2 separate regions of the Homo sapiens genome follow, and region 2 is linked to region 1. The links come from fine-mapping of genetic effects on gene expression. Tissue or cell type: whole blood. Region 1 holds a variant in brackets; the other region holds the start of a gene. All regions are shown on one strand. Distances are between the middles of the regions.

Region 1 (4,319 bases):
GGAGGAAGCAAGCATACCCAAGGTGAAGATCTCCCAGAGCAGGATCCCGAAGGACCACACGTCGCTCAGGGTGGTGTAGAGGCTGTTGAAGATGCTCTCCGGAGCCATCCACTTTAAAGGCAAAAAGGTCTGTAGGGAGGTCAGGACAGGTGCTGAGTGCAAGGAAGGACCTCAGCCCCACTCTGCACCTGGGATGGGAGGAGGGTATCTGGCAGCTCCCACCCACAACCACTTCTCCGTCCCATTCCCTGTGAGGGCCCTGGTCTCTGCGCAGCACAGTTCCCATGTCCATCCCAGGGCTGGTCAGAGGACCAGAGGCTGTTTCCTTTCTCACTAGCTGGGGACAAGGCAGCCCCTGTCCCTGGGGAAAAGCCCCAGGGTCTGAGTAGTGAAGTGTGGGAGCCAGGGACTTGTCAAGGCACCCCCCAAGCTCTTATCCTGGCTGCCTTTGATCTCTGGGCCTAGCGTCCCTCCATCTGGGGTTTGCGGAAAAGTGGGGAGATGAGAGACAGGCAGGATGATCACGTTTTAACCAGACCAATCCCTGCTACTGCATGTGACCTGCTCATCTTTCTTGCCCTGTCACCTGGGCTTCTTCCTCTGCCCACCACCACTGGAACAACACATTCGGCCTGTTCCCCCTTCCCCCACCCTGGACCCATTATAGCCAGCCCTCCCCGCCGCTATACTTGCTCCATGCACTCCTGGGCGGCTCCCCATCCTGTCCCTGCACACATAGCTGGGCAGGCACAGCCCATCACTGCTGTCAGGGCAGGCCACAAGGAGCCCCACACAGATTTCCTATGAGCTGCAGCCACACTGGTCAGGAGGGAATCTGTTCCTGCGGTCACAGGCACTGTGACTGCCCTGCAGGGGCCAGGGAAGGTACTCACGCTGCCTTTGGAGATGTAATTCGAGTCCCGCATGATGTCTCGAGCCAGGCCAAAGTCACAGATCTTGACCAGCTTGCCTTCACAGATGAGCACGTTCCTAGCCGCCAGGTCTCTGTGGACGCACTGGGTTTGGGGAGAGGGGAGCTGAGGCCTTGGGGACAATTGTGGGGAAAGACCCTTCATGTCAAGGGCTTTGGGAAAATACAACACTGCCCATGTGCGAGAGGCCACCCTGGTGTGCTCTTGGAGGATGCTGGCTGGCTGGGTGACCCACCTCCCCACAGCCCCCACTCTGCCCCACCAACACCACACGTACGTTCTTGGAGGCCAGAAACTCCATGCCATTGGCCACCTGGTAGCTGAAGCCCACGAGGTCCATGTAGCTTAGCACTGGAGACTCGTTGATCAAAGTTGCTCGGCAGGTCCTCTCAGGGGCTAGAGGAGAAGCAGAGGGTCACCTGCTATCTTATATCTCCTTCTGGCCCACAGGACCCCTGCCCTTTGGCTCCTGGGAGACTGAATGTCCAAGACAGGTGGCTACTGATCGTCTAGGTCTCCCCTAAAAGGAGAATGATTTCTTAATATCAAACTCAAAGTTCTCCTGCTTTATCAGTGCCCTCATTGGCCTTTTGGCATTAGCCCTTGGGCCACTTTTGCCCAGCCTGGCCTGCCTGCCTGCCTCTCAGGGACACTAGACCAGCCTGGGGCTGAAGCTGAGTAGATCACTTTCCCTACCACGACAAAAGGCCAGGTCCTCCCATATCCCTGCTCTCTCCCTCCCTGAGGGTTCTACGCATGTTTCCGGATCCATAAACAGGGCTTCCGTTTAGGGGTCCACTACAGATCAGTTTTGGCCAGGTGGCTAGCCTCAATTTCTACATCTATGAAATGGGCACGAGGCTCCCTTCTTCTCAGGGTTTTTGGCAAGGCTGGGCATGTGAAGAGCATCAGCCTGTTTGGATGTGGGGTACTATGTCACTATGTCCACCCACCAGAGGGAACGTAGTTATCGTAAGGGGCCATGTAGTTGGAGGACTCGATGTCTGCATATTTGACGTCTCCTTTCATGTCCAGCATGGGCACATAGTCCACCGACTCGTCCTTGCTCATGTCCATGTAGCCACCGTCGCTCTCCCCGGTCAAGGACACATGGCTGGGGGTAAAGGAGCATCACAGGAGAGCCTGCAGGCTTTGCCTTCCCCTCCCCTCCTGCCCCTTGCCACTCATGAATTTCTTCTCTCACTCACACACTCACTCATCTTCCTTCAGTCTATCCCAGTAGGAAAGCCTGTGGATCAAGACTTTTCAACCAACCTGCTGGGCCAAGCTGGGCACTGAGGCTACCAAAATGA[C/T]AGTTAGAACCCAGAGAGCTCACACCCAGAGGCGATTACAGCACCCCAGGGCAAAGGTCACAAGACGGGTGTGTTCAGAGGCGCCTTCCTGTGGCCTCCCCAGCGCCACCTGGCCATGGGAGTGCCTGACTGCAACCCAGCATAGGCAGCCAGGATTCACCCCGCTACCTATGCCTGTAGCATCAGCTCCCCAAAGAGCTGTGGGGCTCTACACACATCTGTCTCTATAGGCAGGAAAAAGATGGGAGAAGCCCTTTGGCTCCTGGGAGACTGAATGTCAAAACATTGGAGAGGACATGAGTGGGTTTTAAGGTCTTTTACGCTTTTCTGAAGCTACTCTTGTCTTTGTTTTTGTAATCAGCAACAGAACTAAGAAGTGTTCTTTTTGGAAAAGACAAAGACTGGAGTTGAGCTCCCTGAGAGGCAGTGTGGAGGCTGATGTGTAGAGGCTGCAGAGAGGAACACAGCCTGGAGCACCACTGTGCAAATTGGGAGGCTTGGCTCTCATCTCACCACAGCCTCTGCCCCTTCCTCCATCACTGCCTGCCCTGGACTGAAGGGCAAACACCCACGACACAGGGATGGCATGTCACATCTGTAGAGGGCTTAGCAGCACAGGGCCTGGCATTAGTGTTATTCCCTCATCTGGGGTGGACCATCTTGTGGAACAGCCCTAGCTCCAGGAGTGATTCTGTCCCCTGCCCTGTCACAGCCTCAGCTTCCCCTCCTGGACAAAAGGAGGGGAAGGAGCGGTGCTCCTCAGGTATCCCAAAGATTCAGTCCCTGGCCTCCCTCCTGGTACCTGGGCAGGGGGAGCCCAACGGGCAGAGCATTGCTGTAGAGCTCCGCGCTGGGCGGGCGGCGCTTGTCGGAGTGGTGCTGCAGGAAGGTGTGTTTGTTGCGGTGCAGGTAGTCCACCAGGTCTCCGTAGCGGCAGTACTCAGTGATGATATAGATGGGTCCTGCAGAGGGACAGGCTCAGGGACAGTCCCTATGGAGGCCTCAGGCGTCCCTTCAAGGCCATGAGGCTAATCAGGGGCTGGATGTGGGAGAGACACTTTGGCATGACGGCTAGGAGGCTTTAGTGCCTTGCAAATCTGGATTCTTTTCCTGCCTCTGTGGTGGAGAGCAAGGTACTTAGTCTCCCTGAGCCTTACCTTCCCCAGCTGTTAAGTGGGGCTAATTAAACCCACCACAAAGCACTGTCATGAGGATTAATGAGATGATGTCTTTATTGGCTGGGCACGTGGCGAGCTCGCAGTGTTGGCTCTTATTGATATGTTTTCAAACTAAAGCTTACTTTGGAGCCCAGTATAGAAAGCAGATAAAGGCCACTGTTTACAACGATCACTTTAGTAGTTAAATTCAACTACAATGCATTTACTTAAAGTCAATCAGTGAGAACTTGAAGATATCTACACAAACGAAAATGTTGAAATGAGCGATCATTGCAAACGTGAATAAGTCTATGTACCCAACATACTTCTGTATTTTATTTTGGTTGCATAATGCTGAGGAAAATCCCAAATCTCACAATAAGCAGCTGCAAATGGTGATAACATTTTTTTTCAGCCTAACTGGCAATCAGAGCTTCAAATAGACCCAGTTGGCCACAGAGACTTTCTTCTATGATCAAATGAAGGTAGCTCCCAAGTAGCAAGCTGGTGGTCTCCAATGGTGGGCATATAACTCATCTTAATGTCATGTGAGCTGTTATTTATTGGTTTTCAAAATGTATTGGGAAAATAAAAAAGTGTCAGCCAACACCATGGTCTGGAAGCTGCTGGGACTGGTGACCTGACTAATCCTTCAGCCTTGAAGGTGTTGTGATTTTGTGAGTTTCTAAACCCCACCGCCCTCTGGGACCGCGCAGTGAGGGCGCTGGAGCGGGTGGGCACGGACCCTCCAGCAGGAGTGTGCTGTTGTGCAAGGCCTGAGGGGGGGGTAGGCGGGGCCTGGCCTTGGTGGTGGGCACTTTCCCTGAGGCCTCTGGGGCAGTGGGCTCGGTACCTCCTTTGGTGCAGGCCCCCAACAGGTTGACCACGTTCAGGTGGGGCCCAAGGTGACTCATGAT
Region 2 (4,160 bases), 36 kb before region 1:
CGCCTAGGCTGGAGTGCAGTGGCATGATCTCAGCTCACTGCAACCTCTGCCTCCCGGGTTCAAGTGATTCTCCCACCTCAGCCTCCTGAGTAGCTGGAACTACAGGAACCCACCACCACACCCGGCTAATTTTTGTATTTTTTAGTAGAGAGGGGGCTTCACCATATTGGCGAGGCTGGTCTGAAACTCCTGATCTTGTGATCCACCCGCCTCGGCCTCCCAGAGTGCTGGGATTACAGGTGTGAGCCACCATGCCTGGCCACAAGACTCCATCTCAATAAAAAAAATAAAATTAAATTGAGACCTGGCTCAGATACTTTTCCGTTTTTGCCCCACAGGCAGGTTGTGGGTGTAAGGATAGGACAAGGCAGTGAAATCAAACCTGTGGGACTCTCTGAGATGAAGGGGGTGGCGGGTACACTGTGTGTGCATTTGTCAGACCTCATTGAACTTAAGAACCTGTGCTTTCTACTGCATGTAAGTTACATTGCAAAATAAGAAGTCCAGGCCGGGCGCCGTGACTCACACCAGTAATCCCAACACTTTGGGAGGCCAAGGCAGGTGGATCACCTGAGGTCAGGAGTTCGAGACCAGCTTGGCCAACATGGTGAAATCCCATCTCTACTAAAAATACAAAAATTAGCCAGTCATGATGGTGTATGCCTGTAATCCCAGCTTGGGAGGCTGAGACAGGAGAAACACTTGAACCCGGGAGGTGGAGGTTGCAGTGAGCCGAGATTGTGCCACTGTACTCCAGCCTGGTGACAGAGAGAGACTCTGTCTCAGGAAAAAAAAAAAAAAAACCCAAATACTCAAGCTCAGTGTGATTGCCTGGGCCAGAGAAGGATGGTCAGTGGGCCATCTCCTCCTCATCAGGGACCAGAAGCGCCACGGCCTTAGGGTCCTTCTGTGAAGAGGCCAGTATGAGGCTGTCCTTTCTCCCCTTCAATCCCCATCCTCCCCCAAGGTCCCTTTGAATAAGCAGGCAATAGAAATGTGTTTGTTGGGCCAACAAGCCAAGCACAGCAGCCCCTCACCTCTAGTCATGTTCCCTCCCAGATGGAAATTCTGCAGAACTGCTACAGCCTGGGGACCTCCTGAGACTTGGCAGCCTGTGTCTGGGAGGGCTCTGGTCCAGGAGACCCTCACTGGCCTCTTCCCAATCCCTCCTCTAGCCCTATACCTATTTCACCCCGAATTCCCCTCTCCTGAGCCCTGGGCCAGAGAGGCCAACCTCTTGTCTCTCCCCTCTGACCCCTTACACAAGCCACCCAAGGAAGAACCACCACCCCTATCAGGCCCTTCCAAATCAGATCTTGCATAGAATCATCGAATCACAGGCTGGCAGAGCTGCCAGAGCCATCAGGAGCTCTCCAGGTCCTCCCAACTCAGTGTAGGTCTGGACCAGCAGTGCCGGCATCTCACATCTCCCAGGAGTGTGTTGGATATACAGAATCTCAGGTCGCACCTGAGACCGACTGAGTCTGAATCTGCATTGTAACAAAATCCTCAGGTAACTTGTATGCACAGGAAAGTATGAAAAGCACTGCTCTGGTCTAGTCTATCACTGTCCCCCTGCCCCCAACACCTGCAATTGAATAGAAGTGGACACTGAAGCCTCAAGAGTATCAGAGGCTTGCTCAGGACACACAGTGAGTCGCTGGCAGAGCTGGGACAGATCCACAGCACCAGGTGGACCAGTTCCACCACACCCATCTCTTTTCACCCCACTACCTCTCCAAAGCAGATACCCACAAGCCTGCAGTCCAGTGTTGGGGAGACTAAAACAGCCTGAGGACACCCAGTGAGGGGCAAGGACTGAATCCTTTCACAGGGGTCTTCTCCATCACACCCCAACAAAGTCCCCCACCCCCCGTTCTGCTCTTACCATGCCAAGCTGTGGCCACCAGCAGGAGCAGCAGAACTCCTGGGCCCATGGCCTCGGTGGGGAAGTGGCAGGCAGGTGCAGGGCTGCAAGGTGCCCAGGGCACAGAGCTCTCAGCTACTAGCTCCGCAGGGATCGGGACACTGGACACACGTTCCTCTCCTCTGCACTGGCTGTTTGTCTTGTTTTCCTCTTCCTCCTCCTTGGGCTGATCCTCTTCTTCCCCTTTTAGCTAGGCAAGGCAACCACAGAGTTTGGAAATCTTGGGTCTTTAAGAAGAAAACAAAGCCTTGAACCCAAGAGGGAGGGGTCGCAGTCTGGGGCAGGGCCAGCCTGAGCTTGGGGGGAGCTAGCTAAGTTTGGGGCCCTTCTAAAGCCATCTTCAAGGGGTCTTGGGAGAAGAGACATGTCCAAGAGCAGCCAGACCGTTAGTCAGTAGCACAAATGAGGGTCTTCAGAGTGATCAGGTGGCTCTGGCAGATCCCAAAGAGAAGTTAGGTTGCATGATATTGTGACATATATATTTTTTCTTTACCCTGATGTCCTGGCTTACAACTCCTAAAATCCTTGGAATCTCCAAAGTAATGCATATCTTTTAAAAATTTATTATTATTATTTTAGAGACGCAGTTTCACTCTGTTGCCCAGGCTGGAGCTCTGTGGCTCGATCATAGCTCACTGCAGCCTCAAACTCCTGGCTCAAGCCTTCAAGCTGTGAGATCTGACGTTATCTCTAGGTAAATATAGTGTTCAAATTGAATCGGAGGGCACCAGATTCGTGTCTGCTGCAGAATCTGAACAATTGGTTGATTGCTTGGTGTATGGGGAAATATGCCCCATCCTCTACATCTGGGGTCAGAAGTATTTTGTGTTGTGAGACTATAGGAGAAACGGAGTTTGTTTTCTTCCTGTATACAGGTTGGTCTGGGAGAGCCTGATAATATTGGCAATAAGCTTCCTTTTACAGGACATTTACTAGCCAAACCTTTTACATTCACTGTCTCCTTTAGTACTGCAAAACTTTATGTAGGTAAGTACTATTGTCATTCTCATTTCACAGATGGGAAAACTAAAGCTCAGAGAGATCAAATGCCTTAAGCTTGTCCATAGTCAAACAGCTACCAAATGGTGGAGATAGGATTTGGATCCCAGCAGTCTGGTTATAAAACTATCTTTTGTGCGTTACTTACATTGTTTATTTATTTTTACAAAGAATCTAATTGTTCTGCATAATTCTTAAAATATATAGCATTCCTTTGCTCCCTCTTTTCCTGGAGGCAATTGCTTTTACCTCTTTTAGTTGATTCGCTTAGTATTTTACTTCTTATCTCTAAAGAACATGGTCATTTCTTCTTCTTTTTTTCTTTTTTTTTTTCTGAGACAGGGTTTGGTTCTGTCACCCAGGCTGGAGTGCAGTAGTGTGATCTCGGCTCACTGCAACCTCCACCTCCCGGACTCAAGCCATCCTCCTACCTCATCCTCCTGAGTAGTTGGGACTACAGGGGCATGTGCCACCATTCCTAGCAAATTTCTGTATTTTTGGTAGACATGGGGTTTCACCATGTTGTCCAGGCTGGTCTCAAACCCCTGAGCTCAAGTGATTCGCATACCTTGGCTTCCCAAAGTACTGGGATTATAGGTATGAGCCACTATACCCAGCCTAAAGTTCCTTCTTGAAATTGAAAAATCCTGATATAACATTGATCCAGGAAAATGATCATTCCCGTGTACTCAGGTGTGTGTGTGGTGTGTATGTGTGTGTTTGTATGTATATTTATGAGTGTATATATGTACTTTCTTTTTCAGAAAAGTGTTTTGAACCTTTAGCAATCATGAATGTCAATCAAAGCTGACTCAAGAAGAAAAAGAAAATCCAAATAAACCTATAACAAGAAAAGAAATTTAATCAGTAATCAAAAACCTCCCGACAAAGCAAAGCCCAGGACCAGATGGCTTCACTGGTGAATTCTCCCAAACATTTAAAGAAGAATTAATACCAATCCTTTTCAACTCATTCTATGAAGCCAGCATTTTTCTGGTACCAAAGCTAGACCAAGACATTGCCAGAAAAGATAACTACAGACCAATACAAATGCATGAATATAGAAAGCAAAAATTTTCAAAAATGTACTAGCAAACCAAATCTTTTTTTTTTTTTCTTTCTTTCTTTCTTTTTTGAGACAGGGTCTCACTCTGTCACTCAGGCTGGAGTGCAGTGGAGCAATCTCGGCTCACTGCAACCTCTGCCTCCCGCGTTCAAGCTATTCTCGTGCCTC

What was found. PIP is the estimated chance that this variant, and not a neighbour inherited with it, causes the effect.
Region 2: it holds the start of CSF1R, and the variant in region 1 is fine-mapped to the expression of CSF1R in whole blood (TOPMed, PIP above 0.99).

What each region holds. Positions count from the first base shown.
Region 1 is chr5:150,119,995-150,124,313 of GRCh38, forward strand. It overlaps PDGFRB (platelet derived growth factor receptor beta), which reads right to left. Exons shown (of 23, transcript NM_002609.4): 14 at 4,256-4,319; 15 at 3,048-3,207; 16 at 1,886-2,046; 17 at 1,210-1,328; 18 at 894-1,016; 19 at 18-129. Among named protein-coding and RNA genes, the nearest start is that of PDGFRB, 34 kb to the right of the region's middle. RefSeq lists an enhancer at 414-1,321. The variant C/T (reference allele first, on the strand shown) is at 2,246.
Region 2 is chr5:150,084,491-150,088,650 of GRCh38, forward strand. It overlaps CSF1R (colony stimulating factor 1 receptor), which reads right to left and starts at 2,064. Exons shown (of 21, transcript NM_001288705.3): 1 at 1,889-2,064. The coding sequence starts at 1,937. RefSeq lists a promoter at 1,937-2,369 and an enhancer at 2,122-2,151.